Linked DNA regions of Homo sapiens: region 2 is linked to region 1. The links come from fine-mapping of genetic effects on gene expression. A gene starts in region 1. The other region holds a variant in brackets. All regions are shown on one strand. Distances are from middle to middle.

Evidence for each region. PIP is the estimated chance that this variant, and not a neighbour inherited with it, causes the effect. A credible set is the group of variants that fine-mapping cannot tell apart.
Region 2: its variant is the best candidate, but not a certain one, in a credible set for the expression of DDR2 in whole blood (TOPMed, PIP 0.51).

The regions. Positions count from the first base shown.
Region 1 is chr1:162,630,448-162,634,719 of GRCh38, forward strand. DDR2 (discoidin domain receptor tyrosine kinase 2) reads left to right here and starts at 2,017. Exons shown (of 18, transcript NM_006182.4): 1 at 2,017-2,184. RefSeq lists enhancers at 295-474, 765-864.
Region 2 is chr1:162,746,642-162,750,913 of GRCh38, forward strand. The region is part of intron 3 of DDR2 (discoidin domain receptor tyrosine kinase 2); the gene reads left to right. Among named protein-coding and RNA genes, the nearest start is that of HSD17B7, 42 kb to the right of the region's middle. The variant CT/C (reference allele first, on the strand shown) is at 1,896.

The DNA of each region.
Region 1 (4,272 bases):
CAGGTGTGTCTGGGTTTTGCAGTCTACATCACTGGCTCAGTCCTGGCTCAATTAAGACTACAACTTGAGTTCTAATTATACATACACAGAGAAAAAACAATCTCACCTATGGAGTAGAACCACCTTAAAATGAAAAAGGAAAACACATACCTATATGTACAGGCCCTGTCCTTTATCAGGCTCAGTCTGGTTTTATGAAGTTGTTACTGTTTTCCACATTTGACCTATAGTATCACCAAATCTGTGAAATCACAGATTGTATTTTTGGTACATTCTTTATAGTAATGCCAAAGAGGTGAACTACTACAGGCATGGACATTTGAGGAGGATTTCTAGTTGTCTCTGGCAAGCACCCAGTAAAGTGCCTGATAAGAGCCCAACACATATTTATTGAGTTGAGCTGCATGTCTGGCCTGAGTCACCCTCAGGCCTGACTTCAGATGCTGTAAGTTATTTGAAGAGTCTTCTTAATAAGTTGATCTCTGCAGTGTCTTTTCTCTTCATAAACTAACCCTAGTTCTAGTTTTTTCTCTAAGGTCTTGCTTGCTGCCTTTAATCATTTCCATGGCTGCCCTCTGAACCATTCCCATGTTCTCCGTGTCCTTTTCTGTAACAGCTGTGAGGCACAGATGTTAACGGCTGCTTTCTGACCCTCAGACTGGTGCTGAGCTTATGAGACTTTTAGGGACTTAACACTGACTCAACACTAGCTCTCAGTTTCATGGCCACCCTCATTGTGTGTGTGTGTGTGTGTGTGTGTGTGTGTGTGTGTGTGTGTGCGCTTTTCCATTCCCCTTATGAAACATCTCCTGCCCCTAACTTACTATGGGAACGTTCCTCCATGATCTCTTTCCATCCTCCCTTTCCTGTTTGCTCACTTCTTTTCTTGCTCATCTTGGAGACTGTGCAATCCCAGATTAACTACAAACAGAGAAGAGCTGGTGATAGCTCCAGAGCTCAGAGAAAGGAGGTCTCTTTACAAGAAGTCTGGCTCTCAAAGGTAAGCTCGGTCTTCTTGACCTGCCTTTTGCCATCTACCTCTCTCTTTGGATCTCCTGCCCCTGGGTCCCTGCTTGCCCTGCATTCTCCATACTCACGGAGAATCAGGACCTCCAGAACAGCCCAGCGTGGGCTTGGTCAGGAATGATCCAGGCTCTGAAGGGTTAAGGCTGGAGCCTGGATGGATGGAGAGGGTTATTAGTTATCGTTTGGAGAGTGGAGTGAAGGCTCCTCCCCTGTTGCCTACCCGCCCCTTTCACATGATCTCTGACTATAGCTGTGGAAGCGGGGAGAAGATAAAGGAGGGAAAAAAAAGTTCACAAAATAATTTAGAAAGTCCTTATAAATGCTTGTGTTTTCATTTAGCAGCATGAATCCAGGACAGCAACAGACCCTCAGAGGCAGCAGCCAACTGGGAATTGAGTGGAAAAAAATAGGAATCCTGGATTCTGGCAGTTTCCAGTTGTTTTCTTGGTGGGGGGAGCCGTGGTGGGAAGGGATTAAATCAAATCTTTCGGGGGAGAGCTCAGCTCTAGGCTTTCATGGTCAAAATACTAAAGGTCAGCTCCGCGTGTGTGCCCCAACTGTCCTGGAAGCTTCAATTGGAAAACTCCAAACTTTAAGTTTTGCTTATAGCTTCAGCTCAAGTAAGAAAAATGAGGTGTGGGGTAGGCGGCGGGGGGGTGGGGATCACAGGAAGGGGATCAAGTCTTAGATGGAGGGGAAGGAAGTGGAGATGGATATGGGTGGGAATAAGGCAGAAGGGAGCGGTGTCTTTAAGTCTGTCCTATGGTTATACATATTTTTTCTTCTATGAATGGGTTTTGCTGTAAATTATAGCTTTGCCCATAGTCCCTTGGGTCAAAAGAAATAGTCTCCAAACAGAAAACAGCTCTGATTGGTGACTTTCCTTCTTCCCTCCCCAACCCCCTTCCTAATTGAAACCAAATGTGCAATATATTGGATGCTGGGATCCCTGGCGCTTTCCCAGGAATCCTCAGAATGTGAGGTTTCTCTCAAAGGCATCTTGCATCAGCCTGTGGATGTATGCCTACCACCGGGCTCCTTCACCAGCAAAGTGGAAAAAGAAGCGTTTCACAACAAATTCTTCTTTTTGGGTTGGGGAAACGCAGTGGATTATAGCTCTGTTTTCTTCTTTCCAAAACTGTGCACCCCTGGATGAAAGTAAGTTATGTGGGTCTTTTTTCTTTATTATTTTTTCTTTTTTGAAAATGAAAGCTCCGCATATACTTCTTTTGGTGTTTCAGGAAAAGTTTTAAAAAGGAAACAGAAGGGCGTTTTAAGTCAGACAAGGAAGGGAACGTAATGAGGCACCACAGACTCGAGAAATCAGATCCCATGTTTTTGGGGGTCTGGATTTATGCTATGAAGGGAAGAATAAAGAGCAGTAATAACCAAAGAAGCCTGAAGCAAAATAAATGAATCTATAGCAGCTGCAAGATACAATAAACAGTGTTAGCAGAGTTGAAATTGTTGGCAGGCAAGACAGGCCGATTGCAGAGTTAGTTTCAGGATGAAGAAGGCAGAGCAGGAGAGCTAAGTTTTTAGACATTTAGTAGTGGTGTTAGAAGGTCCTGAGTTTTGGAGATAGTGTAGACCAAGCACTTTTTGTTTTTCAGGGGAGTTGCTGATTTACTTGTGAGAAGGGTAACTTTGGATGAGGGGTGGCTTCCCCCTGAGATTTGGGGTGGCTAGGGGGAGGCTGGGTGCATGGAAGATTTTTCAGTTGTGACAGTGAAATACAGCTTCCCAGACTCATCTCCTCGCTGGCTCTGGGTGCCTTTCCCTTTGTTATGGAATGACTGGGGCTGTTTTCATTTGGGACCTCTGAGTCCTGGCCTAGGTTCAAGAGTCCCATCCAAAGGGAAAGAGAACTGTTCCCAGTGGCTGAAACTCTCAGACCAGCCATTTGAGGCAAGAGTTCGTACTGTTCAAGCCAGTAGGGGGTTCAGCACCATTTTGCCGATCATTGGCTTCCTACAACACAGAGTTAAGAGTCCTGAAAAGGGCCTTAGGCCTCTCATCTAACCCCTTCGCTCCACAGATGTAAAAAATGATAGGAAGGGGACCGACCTGTTCAAGTCCCACAGCACATCTGTAGTGGAGCTGAAAATGAAATTGAGATTCTCTCTACTGCTAGTCCAGTGTTCTTTCCACTCCATACCTCTGCTTTCATTTCCTTTTTAAGGCTTATTCTGGCTGAGACAATAGAGGCAGTATGATGAGCAAGTCACCACAAGGACGTTAATTATCAGTAATAGAGAGGACGCCAATGGCGGCTCATCAGCTAATGATGTCTATGGTTATATTTGTGTGTGTGTGTAAAATAAAAAGAAGCTAAATTCTGAGTATTTTCTATGCAGCAGGCTCAAAATAATACATAATTCATGCTCAGAGCTCTTCATACATAATTTGATTGACTCTCACAGCTATGTAAGGCATTATTTCTATCGTACATGTAAGGACATTAACGCTTAGAGAAGCGAAATGAGTTGCTCAAGGAAAGGTAGCTAATACATTTGAAACTCATGTATATCTGACTCTAAAACCTATGCTTGGAATCACTATTCAATGATACTCCCCTCATCTCCCTTGCATTTGGTTACTTTTGGGGTCAAATTCCATATTTCACTGGCTGATCAGGAGGTGAAGGTGTCAGGCTATGGGAGCAGTATGGATTCTCTCTCAGAGGCCACTTCTGCACTTGGCTGAACATTTGTCTGGATATCAGATGTGGGGTTGATTTCTGGGTCTTTGGTATATACTTACCTTTGTTATGCAAAGAGCCTGGGACTTAGAGTCAGAAGATTCAGGATAAGTTCTGGCTCTACCTTTTACTACTTAGCAAAGTTGCTTTGCCTTTCTGCACCTTGACTTCTGTATTTATTATATGGGAACAATTGCAGTACCTTTCAGTGTGATTGCTGCAAGAGGTATTGGACATGCATGCATGCTGAAGGCTATCAAGGGCTTACCCATATCAGCTCTTTCGATTAGGATCGGTAAACACAGAACGTCATATGAGGCAGCCCCTGTGGTGCTGGGTCTGGCAGTTGGTGCTGATGCTGGCAGGAGGGCAGATGGATTTGGATGTGTGTGAAACTCTGAAATGGGTGGCCTCAGTCTTAGTGCCCATCTCCTTTGAATGGAAGCAGGCCTTCCTCCCTCCCGGGGGAATATTCCTGAGGGCTCTGTCTTAAATTCTGTCTCTTAAATTCTCCTCCACTGGCCTGGTTTGATATGATTCCTTGC
Region 2 (4,272 bases), 120 kb after region 1:
TGAGATCTGAGAATGGACAGCCTGCCTCATCAAGTGGGTCCCTGACCCCCGAGTAGCCTAACTGGGAGACACCTCCCAGTAGGGGCCTACAGACACCTCATACAGCTGGGTGCCCCTCTGAGATGAAGCTTCCAGAGGAAGGATCAGGCAGCAACATTTGCTGTTTTGCAATATTTGCTGTTTTGCAATATTTGCTGTTCTGCAGCCTGCACTGGTGATACCCAGGCAAACAGGGTCTGGAGTGGACCTCCAGCAAACTCCAACAGACCTGCAGATGAGGGTCCTGACTGTTAGAAGGAAAACTAACAAAGAGAAAGGAATAGCATCAACATCAACAAAAAGGACATCCACACCAAAGCCCCATCTGTAGGTCACCATCATCAAAGACTAAAGGTAGATAAAACCACAAAGATGGGGAGAAACCAGAGCAGAAAAGCTGAAAATTCTAAAAATCAGAGCACCTCTTCTCCTCCAAAGGAACACAGCTCCTCAAGAGCAATGGAACAAGGATGGACGGAGAATGACTTTGACAAGATGACAGAAGTAGGCTTAAAAATATCAGTAATAACAAACTTCTCCAAGGAAGTTTGGAGGATGTTCAAACCCATCGCAAAGAAGCTAAAAACCTTGAAAAAAGATTAGACGAATGGCTAACTAGAATAAACAGTGTAGAGAAGACCTTAAGTGACCTGGTGGAGCTGAAAACCATGGCACGAGAACTACGTGATGCATGCACAAGCTTCAGTAGCCAATTTGATCAAGTGGAAGTTCAAGTGAATGAAATGAAGCGAGAAGAGAAGTTTAGAGAAAAAAGAGTAAAAAAAAATGAACAAAGCCTCCAAGAAATATGAGACTGTGTGAAAAGATCAAATCTACATCTGACTGGTGTACCTGAAAGTGACGGGGAGAATGGAACCAAGTTGGAAAACACTCTTCAGGGTATTATCCAGGAGAACTTCCCCAACCTAGCAAGGCAGGCCAACATTCAAATTCAAGAAATACAGAGAACGCCACAAAGATACTCCTCGAGAAGAGCAACCCCAAGACACATAATTGTCAGATTCACCAAGGTTGAAATAAAGGAAAAAACGTTAAGGGTAGCCAGAGAGAAAGGTCAGGTTACCCACAAAGGGAAGCCCATCAGCCTAATAGCGGATCTCTCAGCAGAAACTTTACAAGCCAGAAGAGAGTAAAGGCCAATATTCAACGTTCTTAAAGAAAAGAATTTTTAACCCAGAATTTCATATCCAGCCAAACTAAGCTTCATAAGTGAAGGAGAAATAAAATCCTTTACAGACAAGCAAATGCTGAGAGATTTTGTCACCACCAGGCCTGCCCTACAAGAGCTCCTGAAGGAAGTGCTAAACATGGAAAGGAAAAACCAGTATCAGCCACTGCAAAAACATGCCAAATTGTAAACACCATCGATGCTAGGAAGAAACTGCATCAACTAATGAGCAAAATAACCAGCTAACATCATAATGACAGGATCAAATTCACATGTAACAATATTAACCTTAAATGTAAATGGGCTAAATGCTCCAATTAAAAGACACAGACTGGCAAGTTGGATAAAGAGTCAAGACCCATCAGTGTGCTGTATTCAGGAGACCCATCTCATGTGCAGAGACACACATAGGCTCAAAATAAAGGGATGGAGGAAGATCCACCAAGCAAATGGAAAACAAAAAAAGGCAGGGGTTGCAATCCTAGTCTCTGATAAAACAGACTTTAAACCAGCAAGGATCAAAAGAGACAAAGAAGGCCATTACATAATGGTAAAGGGATCAATTCAACAAGAAGAGCTAACTATCCTAAATATATATGCACCCAATACAGGAGCACCCAAATTCATAAAGCAAGTCCTTAAAGACCTAGAAACAAAGAGACTTAGA[CT/C]CCCACAGAATCATAATGGGAGATTTTAACACCCCACTGTCAACATTAGACAGATCAACAAGACAGAAAGTTAACAAGGATATCCAGGACTTGAACTCAGCTCTGCACCAAGTGGACCTAATAGACATCTACAGAACTCTCCACTACAAATCAGCAGCATATACATTCTTCTCAGCACCACATCATACTTATTCCAAAATTGACCACATAGTTGGAAGTAAAGCACTCCTCAGCAAATGTAAAAGAACAGAAACTATAACAAACTCTGTCTCAGACCACAGTGCAATCAAATTAGAACTCAGGATTAAGAAACTCACTCAAAACTGCTCAACTACATGGAAACTGAACAACCTGCTCCTGAATGACTACTGGGTACATAATGAAATGAAGGCAGAAATAAAGATGTTCTTTGAAACCAATGAGAACAAAGACACAACATACCAGAATCTCTGGGACACATTCAAAGCAGTGCATAGAGGGAAATTTATAGCACTAAATGCCCACAAGAGAAAGCAGAAAAGATCTAAAATTGACACTCTAACATCACAATTAAAAGAACTAGAGAAGCAAGAGCAAACACATTCAAAAGCTAGCAGAAGGCAAGAAATAACTAAGATCAGAGCAGAACTGAAGGAGATAGAGACACAAAAAACCCTTCAAAAAATCAATGAATCCAGGAGCTGGTTTTTTGAAAAGATCAACAAAATTGATAGACCGCTAGCAAGACTAACAAAGAAGAAAGGAGAGAAGAATCAAATAGATACAATAAAAAATGATAAAGGAGTTATCACCACTGATCCCACAGAATTACAAACTATCATCAGAGAATACTATAAACACCTCTATGCAAATAAACTAGAAAATCTAGAAGAAATGGATAAATTCCTGGACATATACACCCTCCCAAGACTAAACCAGGAAGAAGTCGAATCCCTGAATAGACCAATAACAGGCTCTGAAATTGCGGCAATAATTAATAGCCTACCAACCAAAAAAAGTCCAGGACCAGATGGATGCACAGCTGAATTCTACCAGAGGTACAAAGAATAGCTGGTACCATTCCTTCTGAAACTATTCCAGTCAATAGAAATACAGGGAATCCTCCCTAACTCATTTTATAAGGCCAGCATCATCCTGAAACCAAAGACTAGCAGAGACACAACAACAACAAAAAAGAGAATTTTAGACCAATATCCCTGATGAACATTCATGCAAAAATCCTAAATAAAATACTGGCAAACTGAATCCAGCAGACAACAAAAAGCTTATCCACCACAATCAAGTTGGCTTCATCCCTGGGATGCAAGGCTGCTTCAACATATGCAAATCAATAAACCTAATCCGTCATATAAACAGAACCAAAGACAAAAACCACATGATTATCTCAATAGATGCAGAAAAGGCCTTCAACAAAATTCAACAGCCCTTCATGCTAAAAGCTCTCAGTAAACTAGGTATTGATGGTAAGAGCTATTTATGACAAACGCACAGCCAATATCATACTGAATGGGCAAAAACTGGAAGCATTCCCTTTGAAAACTGGCACAAGACAGGGATGCCCTCTCTCACCACTCCTATTCAACATAGTTTGGATGTTCTGGCCAGGGCAATCAGGCAGGAGAAAGAAATAAAGGGTATTTAATTAGGAAAAGAGGAAGTCAAATTGTCCCTGTTTGCAGATGACATGATTGTATATTTAGAAAACCCCATCATCTCAGCCCCAAATCTCCTTAAGCTGATCAGCAACTTCAGCAAAGTCTCAGGATACAAAATCAATGTGCAAAAAATCACAAGCATTCCTATACACCAATAAGAGACAAACAGAGAGCCAAATCATGAGTGAACTCCCATTCACAATTGCTTCAAAGAGAATAAAATACCTAGGAATCCAACTTACAAGGGATGTGAAGGACCTCTTCAAGGAGAACTACAAACCACTGCTCAACAAAGTAAAAGAGGACACAAACAAATGGAAGAACATTCCATGCTCGTGGGTAGGAAGAATCAATATCGTGGAAATGGCCATACTGCCCAAGGTAATTTATAGATTCAATGCCATCCCCCATCAAGCTACCAATGACTTTCTTCACAGAATTGGAAAAAACTACTTTAAAGTTCATATGGAACCAAAAAAGAGCCCGCATTGCCAAGACAATCCTAAGCCAAAAGAACAAAGCTGGAGGCATCACACTACTTGACTTCAAACTATACTACAAGGCTACAGTAACCAAAACAGCATGGTACTGGTACCAAAACAGAGATATAGACCAATGGAACAGAACACAGCCCTCAGAAATAATACCACACATCTACAACCATCTGATCTTTGACAAACCTGACAAAAACAAGCAATGGGGAAAGGATTCCCTATTTAAT